Linked DNA regions of Homo sapiens: region 1 is linked to region 2. Evidence: fine-mapped expression QTL. A gene starts in region 2. The other region holds a variant in brackets. All regions are shown on one strand. Distances are between the middles of the regions.

Evidence for each region. PIP is the estimated chance that this variant, and not a neighbour inherited with it, causes the effect. A credible set is the group of variants that fine-mapping cannot tell apart.
Region 1: its variant is the best candidate, but not a certain one, in a credible set for the expression of RAB43 in whole blood (TOPMed, PIP 0.53).

Annotation. Positions count from the first base shown.
Region 1 is chr3:129,067,076-129,075,400 of GRCh38, forward strand. LOC124906368 (small nucleolar RNA U13) reads left to right here and starts at 7,020; the gene lies at 7,020-7,127. The variant C/A (reference allele first, on the strand shown) is at 3,177.
Region 2 is chr3:129,116,647-129,124,971 of GRCh38, forward strand. RAB43 (RAB43, member RAS oncogene family) reads right to left here and starts at 5,158. Exons shown (of 3, transcript NM_198490.3): 1 at 4,640-5,158. The coding sequence starts at 4,843. All of the region lies in intron 11 of ISY1-RAB43 (ISY1-RAB43 readthrough), which reads right to left. RefSeq lists an enhancer at 3,242-4,187 and silencers at 4,968-5,147, 5,168-5,387.

The sequences.
Region 1 (8,325 bases), 50 kb before region 2:
TTGCTCCAGCATTCTCCTTTACAAACAAGCTGCCGTGTGCAGCCCTATGCACCTGTGCGGCTATTTCTCTAGGGCACTGGTCCTCAAAGCAGAGCTCCAGAGACCGCTGGGGAGAGGAGGTTCCCTGAAACTCTTTTAGAGAGGTCCACATATTCAAAACTATGTTCATACTGTAGGCCATTATCAGCCTTTTCCACTGTGGTTTTCTGAAATTAAAATCCCTCTTGAAATAAAAGAGAATTTTCCAGAGGCCACATGATTTGTGACATCACAGCAGTGTGTCTGCAGACACAGACACGGCATCCAGCTACCTCCTATTACGCCAGACGTTTAAAAGATTTGCAAAAAATATAGAATGGCACACTTCTCACTCTTTTGTTTTGGAACATATCTATTCTTTTTGAGACAGGGTCTCACTATGTTTCCCAAGCTGTACTCAAACTTCTGGGCTTAAGCAATCCTCTTGTCTCCAGAATTGGTGGGTTCTTGGTCTCACTGACTTCAAGAATGAAGCTGCGGACCCTCGCAGTGAGTGTTACAGTTCTTAAAGGCGGCACGTCTGGAGTTTGTTCCTTCTGATGTTTGGATGTGTTCGGAGTTTCTTCCTTCTGGTGAGGTCGTGGTCTCTTTGGCTCAGGAGTGAAGCTGCAGACCTTCGCGGTGAGTGTTACAGCTCATAAAGGTAGTGTGGCTCCAAAGAGCAAACAACAGCAAGATTTATTGCAAACAGCAAAAGAACAAACCTCCAACAGCGTGGAAGCGGACCAAACCAGTTTGCCACTGCTGGCTCGGGCAGCCTGCTTTTATTCTCTAATCTGGCCCCACCCACATCCTGCTGATTGGTCCATTTTACAGAGAGCTGATTGGTCCGTTTTGATAGGGTGCTGATTGGTGGGTTTACAATCCCTGAGCTAGACACAAAAGTTCTCCAAGTCCCCACCAGAGTAGCTAGATAGAGTGTGGACACAAAAGTTCTCCAAGTCACCACCAGAGTAGCTAGATACAGAGTGTCGATTGGGCATTCACAAACCCTGAGCTAGACACAGGGTGCTGACTGGTGTGTTTACAAACCTTGAGCTACAGAGTGCTGATTGGTGTATTTACAATCCCTTAGCTAAACATAAAGATTCTCCAAGTCCCCACCAGACTCAGGAGCCCAGCTGGCTTCACCCAGTGGATCCCGCACGGGGGCCCAGGTGGAGCTGCCTGCCAGTCCCGTGCCGTGCGCCCGCACTCCTCAGCCCTTGGGTGGTCAATGGGAACTGGGTGCCCTGGAGCAGGGGGCGGCCCTTGACGGGGAGGCTGGGGCCGCGCAGGAGCCCACTGGGGCCGGCGGGGAGTGGTTGAGGAGGGAAGGCTCAGGCATGGCGGGCTGCAGGTCCTGGGCCCTGCCCTGCGGGGAGGCAGTTAAGGCCCGGCGAGAAATCAAGCACAGCAGCTGCTGGCCCAGGTGCTAAGCCCCTCACTGCTCCGGACTCGCGGCTCCGAGAGCGGGGCCGCGGAGCCCACGCCCACCCGGAACTTGCGCTGGCCGGCAAGCGCGGCGCGCAGCCCCGGTTCCCGCCCCCGCCTCTCCCTCCACACCTCACCGCAAGCTGAGGGAGCCGGCTCCGGCCTTGGCCAGCCCAGAAAGGGGCTGGCCGGGGCTCCCATAGTGTAGCGGCGGGCTGAAGGGCTCCTCAAGCGCGGCCAGAGTGGGCACCAAGGCCGAGGAGGCGCCCAGAGCGAGCGAGGTCTGTGAGGGCTGCCAGCAGGCTGTCACCTCTCACCTCTGCCTCTGAAGTAGCTGGGACTACAGGCACACACCACTATGCCCAGCTTTGTTTTTATTAAAGTATTTTATTTTCATTAACATCCTTAAGCTTTATCATTATGATTGTAAACAAAGTGACACATTAAGTATGTTTAAACTGTCTCCCCTTATTTTCACACACTGTAACTATTGGTAGATATAACCCATAAAAAGCTCTCTATGGTGCTCCAGAATTTTTAAGAATGGGTCCTGAGAGCAAAAAGTTTGAAAACCACTGCTCTAGACTAAGAAGCCCATGGCTGGGCATTGAGGCTTGCATTGTCTGAATTCTGATACACAACAAGCTCTAAAACTTTGCTGTTTTGCCATTCTGTAGGAGGACATGCAATATGTATTTCCCAAATTCGTGTCCTTGCTCTGTGGCAGCTCATGGGCACCACCCTACACTAGCCTCTTGTGGGTTTGAGAAGTGAAGCCAGCTGGACTTCCTGGGTCAAGTGGGGACTTGGAGAACTTTTCTGTCTAGCTAAAGGATTGTAAATGCACCAATCAGCACTCTGTAAAAACGCACCCATCAGCGCTCTGGGTCTAGCTAAATGATTGTAAATGCACCAATCAGCACCCCATAAAAACAAAGGATTGTAAATGCACCAATCAGCACCCCATAAAAACAAAGGATTGTAAATGCACCAATCAGCACTCTGTAAAAATGCACCAATCAGCGCTCTGTGTCTAGCTAAAGGATGTAAACACACCAATCAGCACTCTGTAAAATGGACCAATCAGCACTCTGTAAAATGGACCGATCAGCAGGATGTGGGCAGGGACAAATAAGGGAATAAAAAGCTGGCCACCCCAGTCAGCAGTGACAACCTGCTCGGGTCCCCTTCCACACTGCAAACTTTGTTCTTTTGCTCTTCACAGTAAATCTTGCTGCTGCTCCCTCTTTGGGTCCGTGCCACCTTTAAGAGCTGTTAACACTCACCACCAAGGTCTGTGGCTTCATTCTTGAAGTCAGCACGACCAAGAACCCACTGGAAAGAACGAACTCCGGACACAGGCTGTGGGCCTGTTTTCTTCGTGCCTTCACAGACAGTACTGTCGCCAGCCAGCAAACCACCCTCCCCAAATTATTTCCTTCTGGTGAATTCCCAGAGGACTTCTCATGGGCTCAGAACGTCCCCATCCCTGAAAGCATGGAACAGCCTCGTGGTCACTCTGCTGGCATGGGGTGCTCACAGTTTTATCAAGTTTCCTTCTATTTTAGTAACTAAAAATGTTATGTCTGTCAAGGACATATTGCTGGCGGGGTCCCTGAAGGCTCAGAGTAAGCTTCCTGTGGGTTTTTCCACCTCCTGTGCCCTCCCCGCTGTGAGCTCTGCCCTTCTATCTGTTGCACATCCACCATGTGTCAGCTTGAGTG[C/A]CCACGTTCCATGTCATGAATTCTAATGTTTTCCTTTATAGCTAGTTTAGGGAAATTCTGAATTTGTTGTTCAGATGAGGAGCAAGCTGTGGAGAGGAAAAGATCACCAAGGGGTCACGTATGCAGGGGACATTTAAGTACCAAGCACTGCACCAAGTCCCTCACCCTTAGGAAGGTGTATAAACCTCAGAACTGTTACTGCAACACCAGGGTCTAGGTCTAGGTCCCGCTGCTCACTGCACAGAAAGCCAATAAGACAACAAGTATCGCCTGGGAAGAAGGCTTTAATTGTGTGCTGTAGTCAGAGATGGGAGATCAGTCTCAAATCCATCTCCCTGACGGACTAAAACTAGGGGTAATATAACAGAGAAGAAACGTAACCATGTGTGGGAAAACAGGAATTAGGGAGGTCAACAGGAAGCAGGTGGTCAGTTAGGCACTCATGATGGGTGAGAGGTCTAGCCTCTCATTGTGCAGATGATGTGGTGAGTTTCAACTCCTTGACACTATCTGGGAGGCCTGATAGTTGCTTTCCTAAGAGAGGAACTCAAATAAGACAAATGTAACTTTCTCAAGTTTTAAGACTGGGAGGATCAATTTCTATGTTTATTCAAAGAAACCATGAACATCAGTTCTGTGGGGCAGTTGGGCCGGCTTCAGAGCTACCTCTTGGTGTGGGCAGTGAACACCCTTCTCACCTCACCTTCCTCCTCTCCATTTTACAGATGGGGAAACTGAGGCACAGAAAGGTAAATAGCAGAGGTGAGATTTGGAGCCAAGCAGTCTGGCCCCGATGCCACTCTTGTAAGTCCTCTTCTCATGGTTGCTCACAGGCACTCAACTTAGGAACTGCTGGTCAACCCAAAAAAATCTGTATTAAGCATGGAAACAAAATTCACAGAAAGGATGCCTGATGGCCGCGTGGCGTTCTCAGATGAATACAGCTGCTTTGAGGCCAAGTGCTCTGCCTCTGCCCCCTACCTTCCTCCTTATTCACCCACCTGGGGTCTTTGATTCTTAAACTTTAGGGATTCTTGGAAACAAGCTAGGATGACAAATAGGCTATGGATTTGACCTTCTTAGTGATTAAGACACCACCGCGTGGCGCCCGCTGGAGTGGACCAGAATGTGTCCTCCACCAGACACGGCTTCTCAAAAGCTATAGGCGCAGCGATTCTGGGCGCTCTGCCTGTGAGTTAGCCCTGCTCAACAAGGAGCAGTAAAAACCAAGCAAACAAACGGGAGGCAGCAGCTGGTGGGGGTTTATTTTTTGACAATACCCTCACCCCCCAACACAGACACTGACCTTTGGGAAGGGATCTTGGGGCAGACCCCTGCTGGCCTACTGCCCCTCGTCTGGGGTCTCAGGCAGGTGCAGGCTGAGCAGACTTGGGCTCTAGAAACCAACCTTTCTGGAATTTTACGCTAGACCAGGGGTGTCCAATCTTTTAGCTTCCCTGCGCCACATTGGAAGAAGAATTGTCTTGGGCCACACATAAAATACACCAACACTAATTAGTAGGGGATTTTGAAAATGTTACTTAATATTAGATCGATGCACAAAAATCTATTGCATTTTTAGACAATTAGAAATTATAATTTTAGCTGGGTGTGGTGGCTCATGCCTGTAATCCCACCACTTTGGGGAGCCAAAGAGGGAGGATCGCTTGAGCCCTGGAGTTTAAGGCCAGCCTGGGCAACATAGCAAGACCCCATCTCTACAAAAAATAAAAATAAGAAAATTAGCTGGGTATGGTGGCACACACTTGTAGTGCCAGTTACTTGAGAAGCTGAGATGGAAGGATCACTTGAGCCCAAAAGGTGGAGGCTGCAGTGAGCTATGATCACAGCACTGCACTCCAGCCTGAGTGATAGAATGATTGTCTCTAAAAAAGAAAAAAAGAAAGAAAGAAATTGTAATTTAAAAATAGGATACAATAAAAGGCAGGTATACAATTGACTTTCAAGTTGGAAAAAATAAAATTTAATTTATATCTCACACCATAAACAGAAAAAAAAAATACACTAGCACTAATGATGGCTGATGAGCTAAAAAAAAATTGCAAAAATCCTCATAATGTTTTAAGAACGTTTACAAATTTGTGTTGGGCAGCATTCAAAGCCATCCTGGGGCACATGTTGGACAAGCTTGCCCTAGACCGAAGGAAAAGAGAAGACCGATACAACGGTGGCAAAATAGAAAATCCCTGTGGATTTCCCATGTTATAATAACAGGGAAGGAAAATGATCATAAAATGTATGTATTTATTTATTTTTATTTTTTTTTTTTGAGTCGGAGTCTCGCTCTGTCGCTCAGGCTGGAGTGCAGTGGTTTGATCTCGGCTCACTGCAAGCTCCGCCTCCTGGGTTCACGCCATTCTTCTGCCTCAGCCTCCCGAGTAGCTGGGATTATAGGCATGTGCCACAACGCCCGTCTAATTTTTTGTATATTTAGTAGAGACGCGGTTTCACCATGTTAGCCAGGATGGTCTCGATCTCCTGACCTCGTGATCCACCTGCCTCGGCCTCCCAAAGTGCTGGGATTACAGGCGTGAGCCACCGCGCCCAACCTACAAAATGTATTTAGTTAAAATCTCCTGTCGTCTCCTAGGCAGGGGGCAAAGCCCTGCTTTCTTTCCTGGAGTCCCATGGACACTGGGTCAGCACTGCCTGGACCCCTACCCAGCTGTGCAGGTGCTGTTTTACCCCTGCAAGGCTCTCGGTCAGGACCGAGCCTCCTCCTTCAGCTCTTGCCCAACTTCGTTGCACCAAGACAGAAGTTTATGAGCATGCCCAGAAGAGGAACCAATATGGCCTGGGGGCCCTAGAGTGGTCACATTCCAAGACAGAAAGTGGGTGGTGGCCACCAAGGCTGGAGGAGAGGGCACACGGGGAGTTTGGTGGGGACAGAGTTTCAGTTTGGGAAGACGGAAGCATTCTGAGATGGATGGTGTTCATGGTGGCACAGCAGTGTGAATGTGCTTAAGGTCCCTGCACTCTCCACTTTACGGATTTTATGGATGCTTAAAATTAGGAAAATTAGGAGTCTTTTGTAGTTTAAAAGTGTGATGATTGGCTTTTCTTGCTCTTGTGTGAGTGAGGTGTGCTTCTCTCAAAATACTATGTTCTCTCATAAATACTATGCCATGTATGGTTTGTTTTGGGGGTTTATTCTTGAGACAGGGTTTCGCTTTGCCGCCCAGGCCGATCTTGGCTCACTGCAGCCTCTGCGTCCTGGGTTCAAGCGATTCTTCTGCCCCCTGAGTAGCTGGGATTACAGGCATGCGCCACCTTGCCCAGCTAATTTTTGGATTTTTTTAGTAGAGATGGGGTTTTGCCATATTGACGAGGCTGGTCTTGAACTCCTGACCTCAAGTGATCCACCCGCCTTTGTCTCCCAAAGTGCTGGGATTACAGGCTTGAGCCACCATGCCCAGCCCATGCCATGTATGTTTTACCACAATACATAGTAATAATTTTGTTTTAAGTAATACAGCAATCTCTGTAAGCTCCTTTAGCCAAAGACAGTCACTATTAACACACAGTTAGTCTAAGCATCCCAGCTTTTCTCTTTTCTACCTCTGGAAAAGATACATTCCTAGAAAGTAAACACACCAGCGTGAAGTCACGGAGGGAACAATGGGGCTCGCCATTGCGGTATTTCCTTCTGGTGTCCTTCTCCGAACAGTTGTATATAGTTGAGATCATAACCACACAAATTATCTAGCCCAACTTTTTCCCTTCTTTAAAAAATGGAAATAGCTTTATTGATTTTCCTGGCTATATATAACTAATTCATGATCATAACCAAAAATTTTTCTCTAAAACTGCAAAAAAATTAGGAGCCTTTTGTAGTTTATAAGTGTGATGATTGGCTTTTCTCATTCTTGTGTGAGTGAGAACTTCTTTTCTCAAACCTTGTTATGATGTCAGCACATTACCTACCAGACATGAAAAATAATAATAAAAGGCCTAGGCCATGCGCGGTGGCTCACTCATGTAATCCCAACACTTTGGGAGGCTGAGACAGGCAGATCACGAGGTCAGGAGATCGAGACCATCCTGGCTAACATGGTGAAACCCTGTCTCTACTAAAAATAAACAAAATTAGCCTGGCGTGGTGGCGGGCGCCTGTAGTCCTAGCTACTCGGGAGGCTGAGGCAGGAGAATGGCGTGAACCCGGGAGGCGGAGTTTGCAGTGAGCCGAGGTGGCGCCACTGCACTCCAGCCTGGGTGACAGAGAGAGACTCCGTCTCAAAAAAAAAAAAAAAAAAAATAATAATAATAATAAAAGGCCTGAAATTGAAATCCAGCCCCCTCCAGAGACAGATTTCTTCCTAACTTTGACTGAATATCCTTCCAGGCTTTCTCCCCAAAATGTGTGTGTATATATACATATGTGGGTGGGTACGTGTGTATATACACACCCATATATTTAAATATATATTTACGATTATTTTATTTATGAGAGTAATTGAGAACATATTTTCATGGTTCATCTGTTTCTACTTAGTCAATTTTTTTTTTTGAGACTGAGTCTCACTCTGTCTCCCAGGCTGAGAGGCAGTGGTGCGATCTCAGCTCACTGCAACCTCGACCTTCTGGGCTCAAGCTAACCTCCCATCTCAGCCTCCCTGAGAAGCTGGGACTACAGGAGCACGCTACCATACCTGGCTAATATATTTTTGTAGAGACAGGATTTTGCCATGTTGGCCAGGCTGGTCTCGGACTCCTGAGCTCAAGTGATCCACCCACCTTGGCTTCCCAAAGTGCTGTGATTACAAGCGTGAGCCACCATGCCTGGCCTACTTAGTCATTTTTAATTTTATTGTATTCATTCATTTTATTTTTATTAATTCATCTTTTATTGAGGAACATTTAAGTTTGGGTGTGAAATTGCAATGATAAACAGCTATTCAGCTTATTTCACTTACTGGCATTTTCCAATCAATAGTAGAATTCCAATCACTACTTCAATCAAATCCTTCATGAAGATCATTTCTATGTCACTCCTTTTCTGGGATATCTAGGTTGTTTCCAAGTCCCCCCTGCCCCCACAAATGGCATTATGTCTTAGTTTGTTTGTGTCTCTATAAAGGAATACCTGAGACTGGGTAATTTATAAAGAAAAGAGGTTTATTTGGCTCAC
Region 2 (8,325 bases):
AGGCCAAAGGTCCTGAAATCTGGAGGTCCAGGCCCAAGGGCACAGACTTTACCTCTATGAAGGAGAGATCTGGCAGCATCCCTAGCGAGCAGACAGTGAGCCTGAGAGAGAGCTGAATAGAGGGGTACAGTTCCATAAGGCTGACCTCTGCGCTGGACTTGAGGCCGGTGTGCCTAGTGATCTGCAAAAACGAGTTTACATAACAGGCCTTTGTGTTGTCCCAGATAAGAGTGAGTAGAGGAGCTTCAGAATGTTTTAAGGATTTAGAGCCAGCTGAGATTTCCTGAGGACACTGAGGTGGGGAGGAGGGAGGGGTGGGGGAGGGGCAAATTCAGACCTAATCTGTCTCATCTAGGGAGGAAAACAGTAACTGCAGCAATAAAAAAATATATATTTATAAATCCTTGTTTTTAAATAAGAAATGAGTAACACTGATGGCTTCTTCTTAGAGGACACTGGGTGGCTTACGGGACAAACACGGAAGGGAGACTTTTCACTATATATACCCTTTGAAGTTTTTAAAATTTTGAAATTTGAACCATGTGAATGGTTTATCTATTCAAAAGTAAGTCATGGAAACTTTATTTTAAGCATGTTCAAAGTTTTCTGACAACCCTAAGAAAGAGGCAGAGCAAAGACCATTAGTCCCATTTCACAGATGAGGAAGCCTGAGGCTCCAAGGAGAAAAAAAATGAATTGCCCAAGTCTGTGGCAGGGTTGAAGCAAGACTCAGAACTTCAGACTCCTAGTCCAGTGCTCTCTGTCAGAGACTCCACAGTATGCAAGATAAGCAGCACTCAGATTCACTTTATAAGTCCAGTTCTCATAGCTACAGTCAAATGCATCCACAAGAACACTGGAAATGATCACCATATACAAAGCCTTACTGACTCGTACAGCAGTGTCTCTGAGCCGTTTGGGTATATCTACACGTTTTGGTTAATAATAAACCAAACACCCTAAAACTCTTTAACTGTCAACCCCAATCTTTCTAAAATGCCCCATTCCACATTCTTCTCTCAGTGAATGCAATGGCCACAACTGCATTTTTATTAGATCCATTCACTTTCAGAATCTCACGGTCATCTTTATGAACTCAGAGCAAATCAGAAGGGTGGTCAAGTAAAAATGAAGACTGGGCTTAGGAGCCAGCCAAACCCTTGGTTTTGCCACAGAGTTGTAAGTGACCTTGGCCTCAGCTTTCTCTCTATAAAGGAACCAATTAACAGGCACATATTGGACACCATGTGTTTGACACTGGCCCACTGGATCCCTGTGTCTTCAAGGAGCTTACCTTCTATAGGGGCAGACAGAAAAAAACAGTTAATTTGAAGCTGTGGTAAGTGTTATGACCAGATACAATAGAGTTACAGAATAGAGGACCTGGGAGATCAGGCAAGGCCTCTCTGAAGATGTGGCATTTGCGTTGGGACCTGAATGATGAAGTAGCAGTTACGTGGGGATCTAGAGGCAGAGTATGATGGGCACGGGAAGAGATGCAAAGGTCCTGAGGCAGGGGTAAGCCCACCATGTTGAAGGGCTAGTGAAGCTGGAGAGCAGGCAGTGAAGGGTAGAGATGGGCCTCTGTCTGCCTCTCCAACTTTGTCTCCTTCCAGAGGTCCATCTCTTTGGGGAAGGTGTTTGGAGGTTATTCTGGTTGTAATGGGAAGTGGCTACAGAAATAAAGTAATTTGATTAAATCTGTGATTCTCAAATGTTTCGGTTTTTTTAGCAGGAGAATTCTTTAGTCAAATAACAAGAATTTCAACCTACAACTAGATAAAGGTATTGCTCTGACTGGTTGGGAAGCTAGTTAAAGCCCTTCTGACCCTCTCTCTGACCTCTTGGCTTTTCTCCTTACCTTTCAGTACCTCCAAGCTCACAGGAGCTAGAAAACCACCAGGTGATCCATCTCTAAGCTTCCTGAAGCTCTAATAAAACCCAGCATCATTGTAAAGAATCACAGGGAAAGCTTTAGGATATAAGACTGGATGCTTGCTGGACAAGCATCTCGGGCTTCCCAAGACAGGCCCTGAGAAGGTTTATTTTATTTTATTCTAAATAGATACCACGTCTCACTATGCTGGCCAGGCTCATCTCGAACTCTTGACATCCAGCAATCTTCCTGCCTCGGCCTCCCAAAGTGCTGGGATTGCAGGCATGAGCCACTGCACCCGGCCCCTGGAAAGGTTTTACACTGAATCCCTGATGTGCACTTGCTTTCCACAGAAAAAACAACAATAAGCTCTGGTTCATCAAGGCTTTCAGTTAAAATCACACTGCTGAAACTACAGAGACAAAAAACAGATCGGGGGTTGCCACAGGATGAGGTGAAAGGAACTGACTACAGAAGAACAAAAGAACTTTCTGGGTTGGTGGAAAAATTCTCCATCTTGATAGTGATGTGGCTGCTTGTCTGTGTAAGTTTGAGAAGTTCATAGACCTGTAACACCTCAAGTGGTGAAGGTTTACCGTGTGTAAATTAGACCTCAAAAAACTTGACTTAAAATCACATTGCCAAAAGACTACTCAGAGGCACTTTACAGATGGAGGAGGGAAAATGGCTTGCTCCTGCTGCGGCAGCGGACCCCAGGAAGCCTGACTCGAAGGACAGTGTTCCCTCAAGTTCACGGCTGCCCAGCTTTAATTTGGAGCCTCTGCAGTGAGTTAGACTTCAGGTTTTCCTGCCGGCAAAATGAGGTGGTAAACAATTGCCAGAGGCTTCCCCACCACAGACAACGGGATTCTGAAAAGCTGTCCACTATGGGGGAGAAATCTGCTTTGGAGTCAGAAAAACTGGGAAAAATATTCCCACCTCTATCACTTCTTAGCTGTGTGCCCAGGCTCCATCCTGTGTGAGCGGGGGTAAGAATTCCCTCCAGTCAGCAGAGAATGCACCTGTAACCCAGCTGATTCCCAACAGCCTCTCAAGAAGGTCAGCGGCTATAACTTGGAGAGGTGTTTACCACAGCTACACAGCTCTTCTGCTCCCTGGGCCCCGGGCTGCTTCCTAGGAAGGACAATCTGGAGGCAACCATAAGGAAAGAAAATAACGAACTGCCTGGCCCTGCATTGCATAACCCGTGCGCAGTAAACCAGGAGCTCTGCTGGGACACAGTCTGTTATCTCAACAGGTAAACAGGAACCCTGCCCCCTCCCTGACCACCGTCAGCACTGGGCCACCACAGACACTCCAGACACAGACCGATAGCACATGAGGAGGACACCACTGCTCTTTAGCCTGTATTTTCACACTCCCATTTCCCTGCAGCTGCTGGCATCATCACTGGGCACACTCAATAACGGACACTCCACCCACTCCAGCCCTTCCCTGGCTACCTGCTCCAAAAGGGTGGTCCCGAGTGACTCAAAGCTGCCTTCTGCACCTTGCTCTTTTCCATCCACGGAGACCAAAACACAGACCCCAGAAGACGATTAAAATATAATAATAATAAAACCCCTCAGGCAGGAGTTTCTGCTTCCCCGTCACATCTACTGAGAGGCACTGTGGACACATAAAGACTGTTGACTTACTTTTTTCTCCACCTTGGGGCAGGAGGGAGGCAACACCCAGAAATTATCCCAATTTTATAGAAACAAAGACAAAGAGCTACATATCCTAGCCAAAGGCAACAAGGAGCAGGCCTAGAGCCACCCGGAGAGGCAGAGCCCAGCAGCAGCAAGGCTCCAGTGACTCCCATCTCCCTGGCAGAGATCGTCCCAGCCCTGTGCCCTGAGGGTGTCCTGAAGATCATGGGGGCTCGAAACCATGAAAGCAAGCAAAGATTTCTGTACAGTGCGGTTCAGAAAAGTTACTGAGTGCCTTCAGCCCAGGATCTCCTGGTTGATTAGGGAGTACTAACACCTAGGTTAAGAAACTCTGATTTCATTCATCACAAATATTTATCAAACCACTGCCAGGACATTGTGGCAACCACATCCTGCTGTTTTTATTCGGAGCCATTGCCAAAGCTTGGTTCTCTCCCCCACCTTCCGGTATCTGTGAAGTTTTCAGTTTCTATCAAACTCCAGCTGGGGGAGGGAACCGGGGCTGGCCCTAGTCGAGTAAAGTTCCACCACCAGGTCCACAAAGAGACTGCAGGGAGGCGTGGCCAGGCCGGAAATTCTGACAAAAAGTTTTGGCCCTCTGGTCCTAAAAGCAACTACTTCCTGATCGCTCCTAGTCCTGGGGTGGGGATGCAGTTCTCTGGCTGAGTGCCCCGCCGGTGGGCTGAGCTGGGGGCTGCCATCGCGGTGGATGGAGGTGGGGGGTCTGATCTCCGCACTCCAAGGCGCTCCGCTAGTACCTGGAACAGGGGAGTCTAACCCCCTGCCTTCCAATGGCTAAAGTTATTTTGGAGCACAGTCCCCTCCTAGGGTGTGAGCTCCGGAGGGCAGGGCCGCCTCCTCCACACTCCCTCGCCCCCCCCCCCCCCAGCAACCCACGGCCGGCGCTTTGAGGACTTGAACCCGGCCCAGACCCCGGGGCCCAGGCCTGCTCCGACCCGAGGAAGGAAAAAGGGGAAGCCAAAGGAAACTTCAGATGGACGCGGGGTGCGCTCGCCGCGGCCAGGGGCTCCGCTGCCCCCGCCCCACCCTCCGAGGGAGCGCCTTCCAGGGGCCCTGGCCGGCCTCCCACCTTGACCCGCTTGCCCTGGATCTCCAGCGTCTTCATGGTGAAGTCGACGCCGATGGTGCTTCCCTGGCGCTCCGAGAAGGCGCCGGTCTTGAAGCGCTGCACCACGCACGTCTTGCCCACGCTTGCGTCGCCCACCAGCACCAGCTTGAACAGGAAATCGTACTGCTCGTCCGGGTCCCCCGGGCCTGGGCCCGGCCCTGCCATGGCCTAGAAGAAGCCGAAGGGCCGGCGCTCTGGACGCTGGGACCGGCCTGAGCTCACGCAAGCCGCGGGCCGAGCTCCGCCCGCTCCAGCCCACGGGCCGCCTGGCTACGTGGAGCCGCCGCAACACCTGAACCCCCAGCACTGCCGACCGCCTGCCTCGGCCTCGGCCCCGCCCCACCCCGGCTGGCTCCCGCCCCGGCCCGGCTCGGCCCCGCCCGGACCCGGTGCCCCGCGGGTTCGGCTCCCCCCCGGACCCGCCAAGCCGGGCCCTCCGCAAAGCTCCGGCCGGTCCTCAGCTCCGTGCCACACCAGTCTGGCCTGTAGGCCCGCCCCAGCCCGCCCCCGCCCGCCCCCGGCTCCGCCCTCAGGCTGGCACCCACTCCGCCCCCAGCCCAACCCTCGGGCCCACCTCAGCCCGACCCGGGTTCCGCCTACGTCCCCGCCCCCGACTCCGCCCTCAGCTCCGACCTCGACTCCGCCCCCAGGCCCACCTCAGCGCGCCCCGACTCCGACCCGACTCTGCCCTCAGCCCGACCTCGACTCCGCCCACAGGACCACCTCAGCCCGCCCCGACTCCGCCCTCAGCCCGAACTCGACTCCGTCCCCAGCTCCGACCTCGACTCTGCCTTCAGGCCCACCTCAGCCCTCCCCGACTCCGCCTTCAGCCCGACCTCGACTCCGCCCTCAGGCCCACCTCAGCACACCGCCCCGACTCCGCCCACAGGCCCACCTCAGCCCGCCCCGACTCCGCCCTCAGGCTCACCTCAGCTCTGACTCCGCCCCACCCGACTCCGCCCTCAGCCCCGACCCCAGCCCGACCCCGCCCTCAGCACCTCGGCCCCTCCTCCATCAACACCCCGGCGCGCCCACACCGCGGATCCGTCTGGCCCCCAAACCGCTGCCCACCCCGACCCTTCATCAGCTGGGACCCCCAGGTGCTGTCCCGCGCCTCCTGCTCGCCCCCCACCCAGGCCTGGTCCGCCTGCCCGGGATCCCCTACCTGCTGCCTCCCAGACCGCCGGTCAGGGACAGGCGGAGACCATGGCTGGAGCTCCGGGCCTGCAGGCCTAGACTAAGAATGACCCCCTCCGGAATGGATCACGGAGGAAGGGGACGACCACAGCAGTGTCACCTGAGTGCCCACTCTGACAGGCGGGCAGTGCAGTCTCCGAGAGTGGTGGGGGTCGCTCTTCCCAGGGGCGGAAGGGAAGGGAGGGAGCAGGCTGCAGAAGGCCAGAATCCAGGCTGGCTACAAAACTGCGGAGGAGCCCAAAATCCTTGTGAGGAGAGGACCCAGGGCCCCATTTGATGGGAAGCTAGGCCAGAAGGAGGAGCTGGGAGCTCTTGTCTCCAAAAGGCAGCCTAGCAGTGGTTGAAGCAGCTGCTAAACGGCTGGATGACCCAGCTCAGAGCAGCTACAGGCCCATTTGGGAAACTGACCCAGCCAAAAAGCACCAGTCTAGGAAGAGGAACAGAAAAACTTGAAGGGATTTCTGAGGAAGGGCAGACCAACTCCTGAGTTGGCCCAGTGAACCAGGGCGCCTCAGAGAAAGGAGACCCAAACATCTGTAAGAAGCTTATACTAGATCCAACAGGACTGGGCTTCCCAGCTCCGAAGATGGGAAGGAATTGACAGCACCCCTTACCCCTCTAGACAGCTTCCTTGTGGCACTCCAATTCCAGGTATTCAACATATTTAATGAATGGCTACTACAGGCGGGCATTGTCCTGGGGCCTTGTAATGCACCTGTGGACAAAGCAGACAAAAATCCAGGAGAAAAGGGGAAAGTCTTCAAGCTGAAGGAGACTTCGCAGAGAGCAAGTCCCCCAGTGCCACTGTGAGGACCCCAGCCAACCTTTCAGGTCAAGATAGAAAGGGACTGAATGAGCAGTCTGCAAAGGCAGACCCCGTGGAGAAGGCAGAAGAGTTGTTTCTTCTGAAAGTTTGAACTCCACTCCCATGGGAAATACCCAACAGAATCAGACAGGAAACCCCAAAGTGCCACTGAAAAGCAATTGAGAGCCCCACTTTGGTACACCTGATGGGAGCGGAGAGTTAGAGAGGCAGGAAATAACCTCCACTCCAGGGTAGAAGTAGACAGGAGATGGGATGGAAGGTTTCTGCATGCTGGGACTAGCTCAGGTCAAAGTCCAGAACTCCAGAAAACAAGGCCTGCCCCCAGCTCAGAGCAGCTACCACAGCACAAAATGGTGTGGAATCCAGGAGCCAGGATGAAGCGTAGGGGTAGACGGTGGTTGGATAGCTAACTGGCCTTTCCACTGCTCTAGCCTGGAACTGGTTGGGCTGGGGCAGGGGACATGTTGGTCTGAGTATAGATTTTGTCAGAAAACCCAGGCACCACTCCCTTGCCTTTGCGGGGTGATTCTAAAATTGGACTGTGGTAAGGGTTGCACAACTCCTCAAGTTTATTAAAATCATTAAAATGTAAACTTACAACCTGTGGGTTTTATGGTATGTAAATTATACCTCAATAAAGCTGTCTAATATCTGCATTTCCTCTTTTGGTGGTAAATTCCTGAGTAGCACAGTGGCATTTTATTTGAAATGGAATCATGCTAATTTGAAATGCAGCAATTAAAAAATATTTATGTTTCATTTAATACACCAAATTTGAAAAAATGTATATTGCACTTTTTTTTTTTTTGAGACGGAGTCTCGCTCTGTCACCCAGGCTGGAGTACAGTGGCGCGATCTCGGCTCACTGCAAGCTCCGCCTCCCGGATTCACGCCATTCTCCCGCCTCAGCCTCCCGAGTAGCTGGGACTACAGGCGCCCGCCACCATGCCCAGCTAATTTTTTGTATTTTTAGTAGAGACGGGGTTTCACCGTGTTAGCCAGGATGGTCTCGATCTCCTGACCTCATGATCCACCCACCTCGGCCTCCCAAAGTGCTGAGATTACAGTCGTGAACCACCGCACCCGGCCTATATTGCAAAATTTTTAAAATAGGTCAAGAATTTAGTTGCCGGGCACGGTGGCTCACGCCTGTAATCCCAGCACTTTGGGAGGCTAAGATGGGCGGATCACGAGGTCAGGAGATCGTGACCACCCTGGCTAACATGGTGAAACTCCGTCTCTACTAAAAATACAAAAAATTAGCCGGGTGTGTTGGCCGGCGCCTGTAGTCCCAGCTACTCAGAGGCTGAGGCAGGAGAATGGCGTGAACCCAGGAGGTGGAGCTTGCAGTGAGCCAACATGATGCCACTGCACTCCAGCCTGGGCGACAGAGCGAGACTCTGTCTCAAAAAAAAAAAAAAAAAAGAAAGAAAGAAAAAAAAATTGGTCAAGAATTTAACTTTTTTTTTGAGACAGAGTTTCACTCTTGTTGCCCAGGATGGAGTGCAATGGCCTGATCTTGGCTCACTGCAACCTCAAGCAATTCTCCTGCCTCAGCCTCCCCAGTAACTGGGATTACAGGCGTGTGCCACCACACCCAACTAATTTTCGTATTTTTAGTAGA